Linked DNA regions of Homo sapiens: region 2 is linked to region 1. Evidence: fine-mapped expression QTL. Tissue or cell type: whole blood. Region 1 holds a variant in brackets; the other region holds the start of a gene. Each region is shown on its reference strand, or each on the opposite one. Region 1 overlaps HMGXB3 (HMG-box containing 3). Region 2 holds the start of POGLUT2 (protein O-glucosyltransferase 2).

The links. PIP is the estimated chance that this variant, and not a neighbour inherited with it, causes the effect. A credible set is the group of variants that fine-mapping cannot tell apart.
Region 2: it holds the start of POGLUT2, and the variant in region 1 is the best candidate, but not a certain one, in a credible set for the expression of POGLUT2 in whole blood (TOPMed, PIP 0.51).

The regions. Positions count from the first base shown.
Region 1 is chr5:150,021,759-150,027,134 of GRCh38, forward strand. HMGXB3 (HMG-box containing 3) reads left to right here. Exons shown (of 20, transcript NM_014983.3): 7 at 2,504-2,922; 8 at 4,948-5,123; 9 at 5,262-5,359. It also overlaps the pseudogene RPS20P4. Among named protein-coding and RNA genes, the nearest start is that of HMGXB3, 24 kb to the left of the region's middle. The variant G/T (reference allele first, on the strand shown) is at 2,858.
Region 2 is chr13:102,796,791-102,802,166 of GRCh38, forward strand. POGLUT2 (protein O-glucosyltransferase 2) reads right to left here and starts at 2,186. Exons shown (of 10, transcript NM_024089.3): 1 at 1,699-2,186; 2 at 14-219. The coding sequence starts at 1,880. BIVM (basic, immunoglobulin-like variable motif containing) reads left to right here and starts at 2,329. Exons shown (of 11, transcript NM_017693.4): 1 at 2,329-2,731. RefSeq lists an enhancer at 2,336-2,555 and silencers at 2,616-2,885, 3,446-3,495, 3,526-3,955.

The DNA of each region.
Region 1 (5,376 bases):
TCGAACTGATCCTTTCACTGAGATTCTTTTCCTTTGCTCCTCTGATCAAGTCAGCACACATCTTCTCCAGGGATTTTATGTTGCAGCTCGTTAGAGTGATTTGAATTCGGTGAATTGCCACCTCCAGCTCCATGGGTGTTTTTCCGGTGTCTTTAAAAGCCTTGGCTGCAGCGGGCTTCCTGACCGACTTGTTCCTTGGCGAGAGAGAACAGCGGTGAGTCAGGAGCAGGAGCGGGCAGGAGCGGGCGGACCGCAGCTCCGCACCACCTATGACTGTGTCTTCCTCAAAGAGCAAAACATTATATTTTTTTGTGTGTGATTATTTTATTTTTATTTTTTTAGGCTCATCAGCTATTGTTAGTGTTAGTGTATTTTATGTGTGACTCAAGACAGTTCTTCCAATGTGGCCCAGGGAAGCCAAAATTGGACACCCCGATCTATTAATAAGATTTCTTGAATTCTGATTTTTGAGGCAGCAAGTATAATTTGTCTCTAAAAGCTCCAAGTGTGTTTGTGCCAGCCAGGAAATGACTCACCTTTTGTTGTATTGTTCTAGAGTTCATACTGGCTAAAATTAGCCCAAGAAATATGTGGCATAGTTCCCAATGAGTTGGATAAAACAAAAGATAGTATATAAGGCTGTTTAGCTCAAGGCTTCATTCTTAAGGCTCTCTGATGGCAGCAGTTGAGGTCTCTCTGAGCCTGCAGCCTCAGAGAATTTTGAAAGTAACATCTAAAATGAGTAGGCTGAGTTAATGAAATGTGAGATCACCAGGTAGAGTTGTTTTGCTCAGATTGCTTAAATTACCCAATCTTTCTGTGGTGATTTTTGTCTAAAATAGCCTACTTAGTAGGCAGTGTTTGCTCAAAAATCTTATCTCAAAAAATGAGTTTAGTCTCCTGTTTTTCTGCTAAATTTTCCCTCTCCTGCAGTAAATAAGCTCTGTGCACTTGACTTGGAATTTTTCTCCATGTTAACTCACTCTTAGGGGCTATTATGTGTTAGAATCTGAGAATGCTTTACCAAAGAGCTCTTAAGAGGTCACCTGTTACTGGCTCTTTTTTTTTTTTTTTTTTTCCAGACAGGGACAGGGTCTCGCTCTGTCACCCAGGCATGAATACAGCTCATGCAGCCTCAGCCTCCTGGGGTCAAGTGATCCTGCCACCTCAGCCTCTCGAGTAGCTGGGAACACAGGCACACAGGCTGCATACCACCATGCCTGGCTAATTTTTTTTTTTTTTTTTTTTTTTGTAGAGATGTGGTCTTGCCATGTTTCCCAAACTGGTCTTGAACTCCTGGGCTTAGGTGAGCCTCTTGCCTCAGTTTCCCAAAGACTTAGGATCACGGGCATGAGCCATGACGCCTGGCTGTTACCAGTTCTGAACTAGAAGTGCAGTATGCAGATGGCTTTGGAAATGTTGAGGGGTTTTTGGGTAGTAAGCGACTGGGAGATAAATCATTGAAATTTAGTGACATTGGCACAGACACTAAACTTTCTGTAATGTGCAGGGAGGTCCTACACACTATAGAATTAGGTCACCCAAAATGCTGTCTGGCTCCTGTTGACAAATACTGAGAGCCCAACCCTTTGCTATTTCATAAGGGGAAATGAGGATTCAATTGAAGCTTGCCTTATACCACATAACTAATTAGGAGTGGAGCTAAGCTTGATAGAACCCAGCCTTTATGTTTCCTAGTTTACAGTGCCCTTTATGATATACATGGTGGGTAGAAAACCTTTCTGAAGACAACCACTATTTAAAAACATTTTTAAAAGCGTATGTGTGTATATATAATACTATTATTTCCACTGCAGTGCTAATTGGATAAAAGCTAAGACACCAAGGACTTTTTAAAGCCAGGTCTAGCTGAAATAGCAGCTGCCATTTTTAGTGAGTTTGAATATTTGTAGCACATAATAATGCATGAGTTAATTTGATCCAGTGCAAAGTATGTGACATATGTGCAAGTCATTCTTAAGACTCTCCTTAAAGAATCTGGGACAAAAAACAGAATTTTTCCCAAAGGAGATGGGAAAATTTGAATCTGTCCACATGAGGTTGCGGCCACATTGGGATTAACTGAATCTCATAAAAGGACCACCAAGGTGAACAACTTAGGGCTTTTAGGCCCTGTATGGCAGTATGTCACCCTCTTTCTAGACACACAGAAGTAGCCTTTGAATAATGTAAAACTAAATGTAAACCTAAAAAATGCCAACATTTGGTTGATGAAACCTGGAGAAGCTTTTCAATAAGAATTCATTAGAAGATGAACAGTTTTATTCAAACGAAGGCATTTAATGCTATAGTGAAAGGAACCTGTAGCCAGAAAACTTAGATTCAGGCTAGTTTTACACTTGAGATCTTAAGTTAACTTCTTCCTTTCATGGACCTTAGTTTCCTTATTTATTGCCCATATGTTATTAAAAATGAGAGAATGTTTGTGAATGTCATCAACTGTAAAATCCCTTATGTATACAAGGTATTCTTATTTTTCTAGGAAAAGCCAGCCAAAGTAAAAGTGGAATTGGCTTCTGGCGTCTCTTCCAAAGGCTCTGTGGTGAAAAGAAATCAGCAACCTGTCACCACTGAGCAAAATTCCTCTAAGGAAAATGCCTCCAAACTGACTCTGGAGAATTCGGAAGCTGTAAGCCAGCTCCTGAACGTAGCTCCTCCCAGAGAAGTAGGTGAGGAGAGTGAGTGGGAGGAAGTGATCATCTCCGATGCCCATGTTTTGGTTAAGGAAGCTCCCGGGAATTGTGGTACAGCAGTCACTAAGACGCCAGTCGTCAAAAGTGGTGTGCAGCCTGAGGTCACTCTGGGGACAACTGACAATGACAGTCCTGGAGCAGAC[G/T]TACCAACACCATCCGAGGGGACAAGTACCTCCAGTCCACTCCCTGCTCCTAAAAAACCTACAGGGTAAGTCAGTGTGTTTGTATAATATAGGGCTTTGGAAATGCCCCATGTTTCTTTTATCTCATGTCTGTACAGCATGCCTGAGAGAGGCAGCAGAGACCAGGCAATGGTTCCTGTTTTAGAGATACAGAAACCAAGGCCTAGAGATATATAAAGATTGTCCCTTCCCCCGGACTCTGCTATTCATGTACTGCTGTCAGATTACTTACACATCTCTTCTTGTCAGTCTCCCTAAAGCATTAATTAGAGTCTTGCTGGTATAGGCTCTGGGCAGTATTAAAACTATGAGTTACCAGTCCTGGATACTGGATTTGGAAAGAGAATCTTTATTAAAGCATCCTGTAGAAAGAGTTCTGGCCTTATAGTCAGAGAACTCAGTACTGGTTCTGACTGTTTCTGGCTTCTGTTTGACTTTGGGCATTGTCACTTCATGTCTCTTCACCTCAGTTCTCTCCTCTGAAGAATCTTGAGTTGGATATTAGAAAATCTTATCCTCACAGGCTGACTGTACAAACTGAAGATTGTATATAAAACATGCAACCAAGTACCTTGCAAGTCGGAGGAAGTCACTATCTTTTTCTCCCCTTTTCCTCCTTAAATGCTTAATTGGATTCTGTGTATATCCCTTCCCTGAGGAAGTTGTGTTCTTGTAACTGAAGACCCTTATTTGTATCAATGGTTCTCAACTGGTAACAATTGTGCCCGCAATGAACACCAGAAGCCAATTCCACTTTTAACTTTGGCTGGCTTTTCCTGGAAAAATAAGAATACCTTGTATACCTTGTATGCAAATATGTATGTGTGTGTGTGTATATATATTTTTCCCATTTTTTTTTTAACACAAATCATAGCACAACATACATACTTCTACATCTTGTTTTTTATTTTTATGTTTATTTTTATTGTTTGAGACAGGATCTCTCTTTGTCATTCAGTCTGGAGTGCAGTGGTGCGAACACAGCTCCCTGAAGCCTCATCCTCCCAGGCTCAATCGATCTTCCCACCTCAGCCTCTGGAGTAGCTGGGACTACAGGCACGCACTACCACACCTGGCTAATTTTTGTATTTTTTTTTTTGTAGAGATGGGGTTTTGCCATGTTGCCCAGACTGGTCTTGAACTCCTGGGCTCAGGTGATCCGCCCGCCTTGGCCTCCCAAATACATCTTGCTTTTTTTTGGGATGGAATCTCGCTCTGTCGCCCAGGCTGGAGTGGCGCCATCTCGTCTCACTGCAAGCTCCGCCTCCCGGGTCCATGCCATTCTCCTGCCTCAGCCTCCCGAGTAGCTGGGACTGCAGGCACCTGCCACCACGCCTGGCTAATTTTTTGTATTTTTAGTAGAGACGGAGTTTCACCGTGTTAGCCAGGATGGTCTTGATCTCCTGACCTTGTGATCCACCCGCCTTGGCCTCCCAAAGTGCTGGGATTACAGGCGTGAGCTACCGCGCCCGGCCCCATCTTGCTTTTTTTAAAAAAAATCATGTAGCAATATACTTTGGCGATGGTTTTGTATATTTAAAGGATGAAGCTGTGCACTTTAGACCTTTTGTTTGAGACACGTAAATCACTCTAGCAAATGTTTATTGAGGCCTCCTCTGTGGTATAGGCCATGTGCTCAACATTGGTGCTGCAAAGATGAAGCAAACATGGACTCTGTTCTCTAGGGTCTCTAAGCTGCTGTCATAAGTATATGCTCTAACTAGAGGTAGATTAGATGTTACAGCTATAATAGCGATTGGCATTACACGCTGTAGACATCGTTTTACACTTCTGTGTCTTCGCAATGACCCCATACTGTATAGGTAATTACTGTTCCATTTTACATATTAGAAACTTGAAGTTAACAGAAGAATGAAATTACTTGTCCAGGGCCACACAGCTATTTAGTGGTTGAATTTGAACTCAATCTGTCTAAAGCTTGACAGTTTAACCCCAATACTATCCTCTAAGAAAGCACTATGTAGAGATTGCGCTTTGGTTTTCTTCCCTTTGTTCCAGAATTTCCAGATTTCTCTTCTTATTCTTTTCAGAGCTGACCTGCTTACCCCTGGGTCCAGAGCTCCAGAGCTTAAAGGCAGAGCACGGGGCAAGCCCTCATTACTGGCTGCAGCAAGACCCATGAGAGCAATTTTGCCAGCCCCAGTTAACGTGGGGCGAGGCAGCAGCATGGGACTGCCCAGGGCCAGGCAGGCCTTTTCCCTGAGTGGTAAGGGCTGGGACATACCTGGGATGGAGGGGCTGTCTGACAGGAAAGGGACAGGAGTGGGGGGTTGAGAACGGACATAGAGACTTGGGGAGACTCTGAATGCACTTAAGTCACCAGTTTGGCTCCTGGTTCTCTCAGATAAGACTCCCTCTGTGAGGACTTGTGGTCTGAAGCCAAGCACACTGAAGCAGCTGGGCCAGCCCATTCAACAGCCATCTGGCCCTGGTGAGGTGAAGGTAAGGCCCATTTTCCA
Region 2 (5,376 bases), not on the chromosome of region 1:
TATTCCAAATTACCTTTTAAAATATATGGGGATTTGGCCACATGTTGCCCTTGGAATTTAATTTCCACCTTCAGATTTTTGTAGCTTGCATACATTCTGTATCTTACTATGAAGGACCCATCTTTTCGGTCTAAAACCTGGACTCCAACTCTAGTGAATTGCTCCTCTGGTGCTGAGACTTTCACCTGGAAGACCTTTTCGCCTGGAGAAGATGTGAATCTGTGATGAAAAGGCAATGGGGGAGATAAACAGATTTTAACGAACAAACACACAAAGGTTATGCTCTTCAGTCTGGAAACTTGATTATTCTCCTCCACATTCTTCCTCTAACATATGATTGCTTCTTCTTCTCTTATGCTTTTAGTACCAGAATGAATATGATGGATCAGAGATTTAAAAAAATGAGGATGACAATGGCCAAGATAACATGAAACAGTTTCATTAAACAGTCACAATGGAGTATGTTAAGACTATTAATCTATATAAGCACAGAACATACTCATGCATTCCATATGGAAAAATATTCTTACTAACTTATTTCATGCTATCACATCTGGATATTTGTGATCAAATGATGCTCCCAAAGATAATGATCTTATTTTGAAAAATCTCTGCCAATGAATCTTTACAATATCAGTATTATAAATCACGCTCAGGCCTGGCACTGTGGCCCATGCCTACTATCTCAACATCTTGGGAGGCCAAGGAGGGAAGACTGCTTGAGGCCAGGAGTTCGAGATCAGCCTGGGCAACAAGGTGAGATCCTGTCTCTACAAATAATAATAATAATAATAAAAAACAAATAGCCAGGCGAGGTGGCACACGCCTGTAGTCCCAACTACTAGGGAGGCTGAGGTGGGAGGATAGCTTCAGCCTGGGAGGTTGAGGGTACAGTGAGCTGTGATTGCACCACTGCACTCCAGACTAGGCTAGGAAGTGAAACCCTGTCTTAAAAAAAAAAAACTCACGCTCAGCCATGGGCAAAAGCAAAGTAGTAGGTAGTGTATCATCTTTTGCCAAATAACAAAATTTACAACCTGCCTTTTACTTGACAACCTTTTATTCCAGTATTTTTTTCTGTATGAAATACACACAGTCAGCATCCACCAATAATAGAGACAATCATTTCAGAAGTATAGGAATTATAAAAATAAGTTTTAAGTATGATGTTAAAGTATTAAATTCATTGGAACAAAATATTTGTTACAATCATATAGGAGATTAATACTTCGATACTTTCCTTCCGAACTCTGAAGTTTCAAATAGTACTTCATTTTTCTTTTTCAGTTTCAAAACATGCTTACCTGCAGATGTCTCCTTGAAAATTGAGGGCCGCACCAGAGAAAGATGAAGCCCATCAAGTCTCTAACAACTAGGTTTAAATCCCTTATAATAGCTTATGCGAAAAGTAGTTAGAAACAGTATTTCCAGCAAAGTGGAGGGACTTTGTCTTGCCCTGATAATGTGGGAATCTGAATCAAAATTGCTAGGAGATTATTTTATATGTTATATACAATACATTATATTGCATATATTATAATTCGGAACAATTTCTACAGCTACAGAGAAAAATGGGTAACCAAATATCCTGGAATATAAACTGCTGTGGAGAAACGAGTTCTTGGAAAGAAAAATCTTAAAGGGAGAAACAGATTTAACCGCCATCCAAAATAGGTAAGGAGCCGTTTCTCGACTTACTTATTCCCTGATGTATCCACTGCCTGAATATAGAAATAGCGGGCGGGAAGGACGACGTCTGCTTTTAGCCCGGGTCCCCATATTTCGCTCTTCTCCGGGCTCAGCTGCCTTTCTCCGCCGGTCTCGGCGAGTGCTGGAACTGTCGCCAGAAAGAAGCAATAAAGTAGCAAAGTGCCAAACATTTACAAGACGGACTCTCGAAATGATCCACCGATAAATGAAGAAGTGTAAGAGGTGGACAGAAGCAGCCGAGCCTTCGGCAGGGACCCGCCGGCCGATCGCAGCAGCCAACGCGACTGCAAAGGTTGCCGCCCGGCGTGCAGGGCAGGCGCGCGGGTCTCCGCGACCCCAGGACAATCAAAGCCCGTGCCCCGGCGCGCCCAGGTGAGGGTCCCCTGGCGTTCTGCTGTCCCGGCCGAGAACCGCGCTGCTCCTCTCTCTCAGGACAATGATGAACTTGAGTTGCTCCTGCCACTGGAGCATCATTTGGGAGCGAATCCGTCTCAGGTTCCAGCCAAGGTGTAGGGCGAGGGGATTGGCCCGTGCGTCGGGCCAGGCTCAGTAACGCCTTCTCCAAGTGGATGGCGGGGTGGACACGCGTCCCGGCGCCCCGGGCTCCCTGGGATATGTAGTTCGCGACAGGACGAGCGGAAATACTGCCAGGATTTTACCACCTCTCGCCCATTTATTTACTTCTCGGTCACCGCTTTCGGGGGACAGATAAACACCACAGATGCCCATCAAAGGGGCGCACGGGTCTGGAGGCGCAGCTCAGGTTTTTGCGTTGGTCACCCTGCCCTCCGCACGTGGAGAGGGCAGGCATAAAGCACCTTGAAAGGAAGGTGCTGTCAATGCTATCCGACGACCTGTCGCCGGGCACCGCAGCATCCTCGCTCGCTCCGATGGGACGAGGGACGCCGGCCCCAGGGTAACAGGAGGCGCCTCGCCGGCCGCGCGCTGGATGCTGTGATCCAGGTCCGGAGCCGGGTTCCGCCGCGGCCGCAGCGACCCGACCCCACCCGACAGGCCAGAGGTACCCCGGGGCGGGGGGCAGGGGCCGAGGTGGCGGCCGGCTGTGCGCTCTGAGCGCCTGGCCCTCCGCTGGGCACCTGGGCGCCGCCAGCCCGGCCTGCTGCCGCTCTACGCGCAGCCACCTGGGCATTCAAAATTTTTACTTAATTCGATACCGGCCTGGGCTGCCAGGGGTCATCGCCTCTCCGAGCCCCGTGGCGTCCAGATGGAGGCCACTGCATGGGTGCGCGCTCTCCCGGGAAGGAGTAGGGGGAAGAGCTGTGTCGCGGGGGGAAGAGAAGCGCCAGGGAAAGAAGGGCCTAGCCCTCTGGTGAACAAAGCTCGATTAGGAGGTGTCCATGTGGATACCGGTGACCCCTGTGCGGCCGTCGGTCTCCACGCCACGCTGGGCAGGGTCCGGGAACCAGCGCGCAGCGGCCGTCGCCTTCCCCTGCACGCCAGCACCCGGGTCTGGGCCGCCGCCAGGAGTCACGGGCTCACCGCCCTGGTCAGCTTGGCAGTCGGACCCGGAGCCGCCTCCTCTGCCTGCCTCCCTCTTGCCAGCTGCCCCGAAAACCCAGAAGAGCCGGTGGCTCCGAGCCAAGGCGGGCCTGGTTCGGCGCCAGGAAAGGGGGTTTCTTTCCTATTTTCTTTTGTGCAATTGTCATTATTAATGATACCGACTCGTTTACTCAAACAGTCGAATCGGAGCCCCAGCTCTTAGCCCGGATGCAGCAATTGCCCGTGGGCCCCCTTTAACACCAACAGCGTCCCCGGGGCCCGGGGCAAGCATGTTCGAGGCGGTCACCCCCGGGCCTCGGCGCGCTCCCCCTGGCGGAGAGCCTCGTCTTCCGGCCGGTGAGGGAAGGTAGAGGAGGGAGTAGGGGCGAGGAGGCCTCGGCGGCCCTTGGGCTCTGCGGGCTGGGGACTCGGGGTGCCCGCGACACGCGCGGAGGCGCGGGCTGGGTTGGCCACGGGCAGGGAGCGCAGCCGCGCTCCTTCCTCTCTGCCCGCGTCGCCTCCGCGCGCACTGGTTCTGCGCGGCGGGGCTTGGCCTGCGCGACTGTCTACTCCGTCCCGGCGGCCTCGGAGCCCGGCCGAGCGGCGAGCTTGTCAGAGGACGGTGGTGGAAACGCTCCCGGCCTCCCCAGGGGCGCGGGCTGGAGGCTGGCGCCAGGCGCGGAGGACTCCCGGTATCTTTTGACAGGCTGGCGCCTCGGCTCTGGGGACCCGCAGGTCTGAAGGGGAGGAAGGGGCCTGGAGGGCGCGGGAGGACACCGGGTGGGAAGGGTGGCATTAGCTCGGCCGGGGGCTATGCGCCTCTGGTTTCGCCCTCCCGCGCATATTCGACCCTTACGAGGTCACCGGAATGCCCCTGCTCCTCAGTTGCCTTCTATACAGGATATCGATCAGGGTATTTTGTTATACGAAAAGGCTTTACTGAAGAGGTTTTTAGAGATGTTTGGTTCTCTCATAAACTTGATACTTGAGAATACAGACAAAATATAACCTGAAAAGACTACAACCTAGGCGATGAAGATTGGCTTTACAAATGGACGTTTATTTTACAGAACACTTCGTTCAGTGACTTTGAACAATCATGACTCTGGCGGTGCTTTTTAAACTTGCCATTTTATAAATTTTTGCTTTGCATACGAGCAAACCATATTTCTATTGCTTATGACATGATTTTATGAGTAAGCTATTAGTTGAGCCTGAGGTCCTGCAGTCATTCTTAGTAGTAAATTTTTTTTTTTTTTTTTTTGAGACGGAGTTTTGCTCTGATCGCCCAGGCTGGAGTGCAATGGTGCAACTGTAACCTCCACCTCTGGTGTTCAGCGATTCTCCAGCCTTGCCTCCTGAGTAGCTGGGCCTACACGCATGCGCCACCATGCACGGCTAATTTTGTATTTTTTTATTTTTTATTTTTTTTTAGTAGAAACGGGTCTCACCATGTTGGCCAGGCTGGCCTCAAACTCCTGACCTCAGATGATCCACCCGCCTCAGCCTCCCAAAGTGCTGGGATTACAGGTGTGAGCCACCACGCCGGCTTAGTAAATCTTAATATAGCAACACCTCACTTGCCTGGAAGAGGGAACCGCAATCAATCAAAATGAGGGCCTACAGTAATGCCTGGCATGATGCAAACACTTAAAAATTATCTGTTGAATGAGACGTCTACAAATCCTAGGCCCTGGGGATACAATAATCTGGAAAACCAGACTTGCAGGATGCAGACGTTGATCATATGAACAGATATGCACAGAAGTAAGTGTAAAATTGCCACCTGGTAAGACCTGTGTGAGGAAGGTACTAGAGTCTGTACCGGGTCACCTGGCCTAGTTTGAGAAGCCAAGAAGGTTTCCCCCAGAAAGTGACATTTGAGCTGACATTGGAAAGATGAATGGGAATGAGCTAAGTAAGGGAGACAGTATTGGGAGAACCAAAAAGTAATGTGGAGCTTGGGGGGTGGGGGAAAGGAATGAGATGGAGCTAACCAGATAGATCTAGGGACCATCAGGAGTTGGCCTTTTGTTCTAAGAGCAGAGGCTTTCAGGCAGAGGAGTTCTGTGATCATATATATGTAGCAAACTTTATTTTCTAATATCTCTGCACAGGTCAGGTTAGAAGTGTCAACTCACTGGGAATAGTTTATAAATAGAGAAA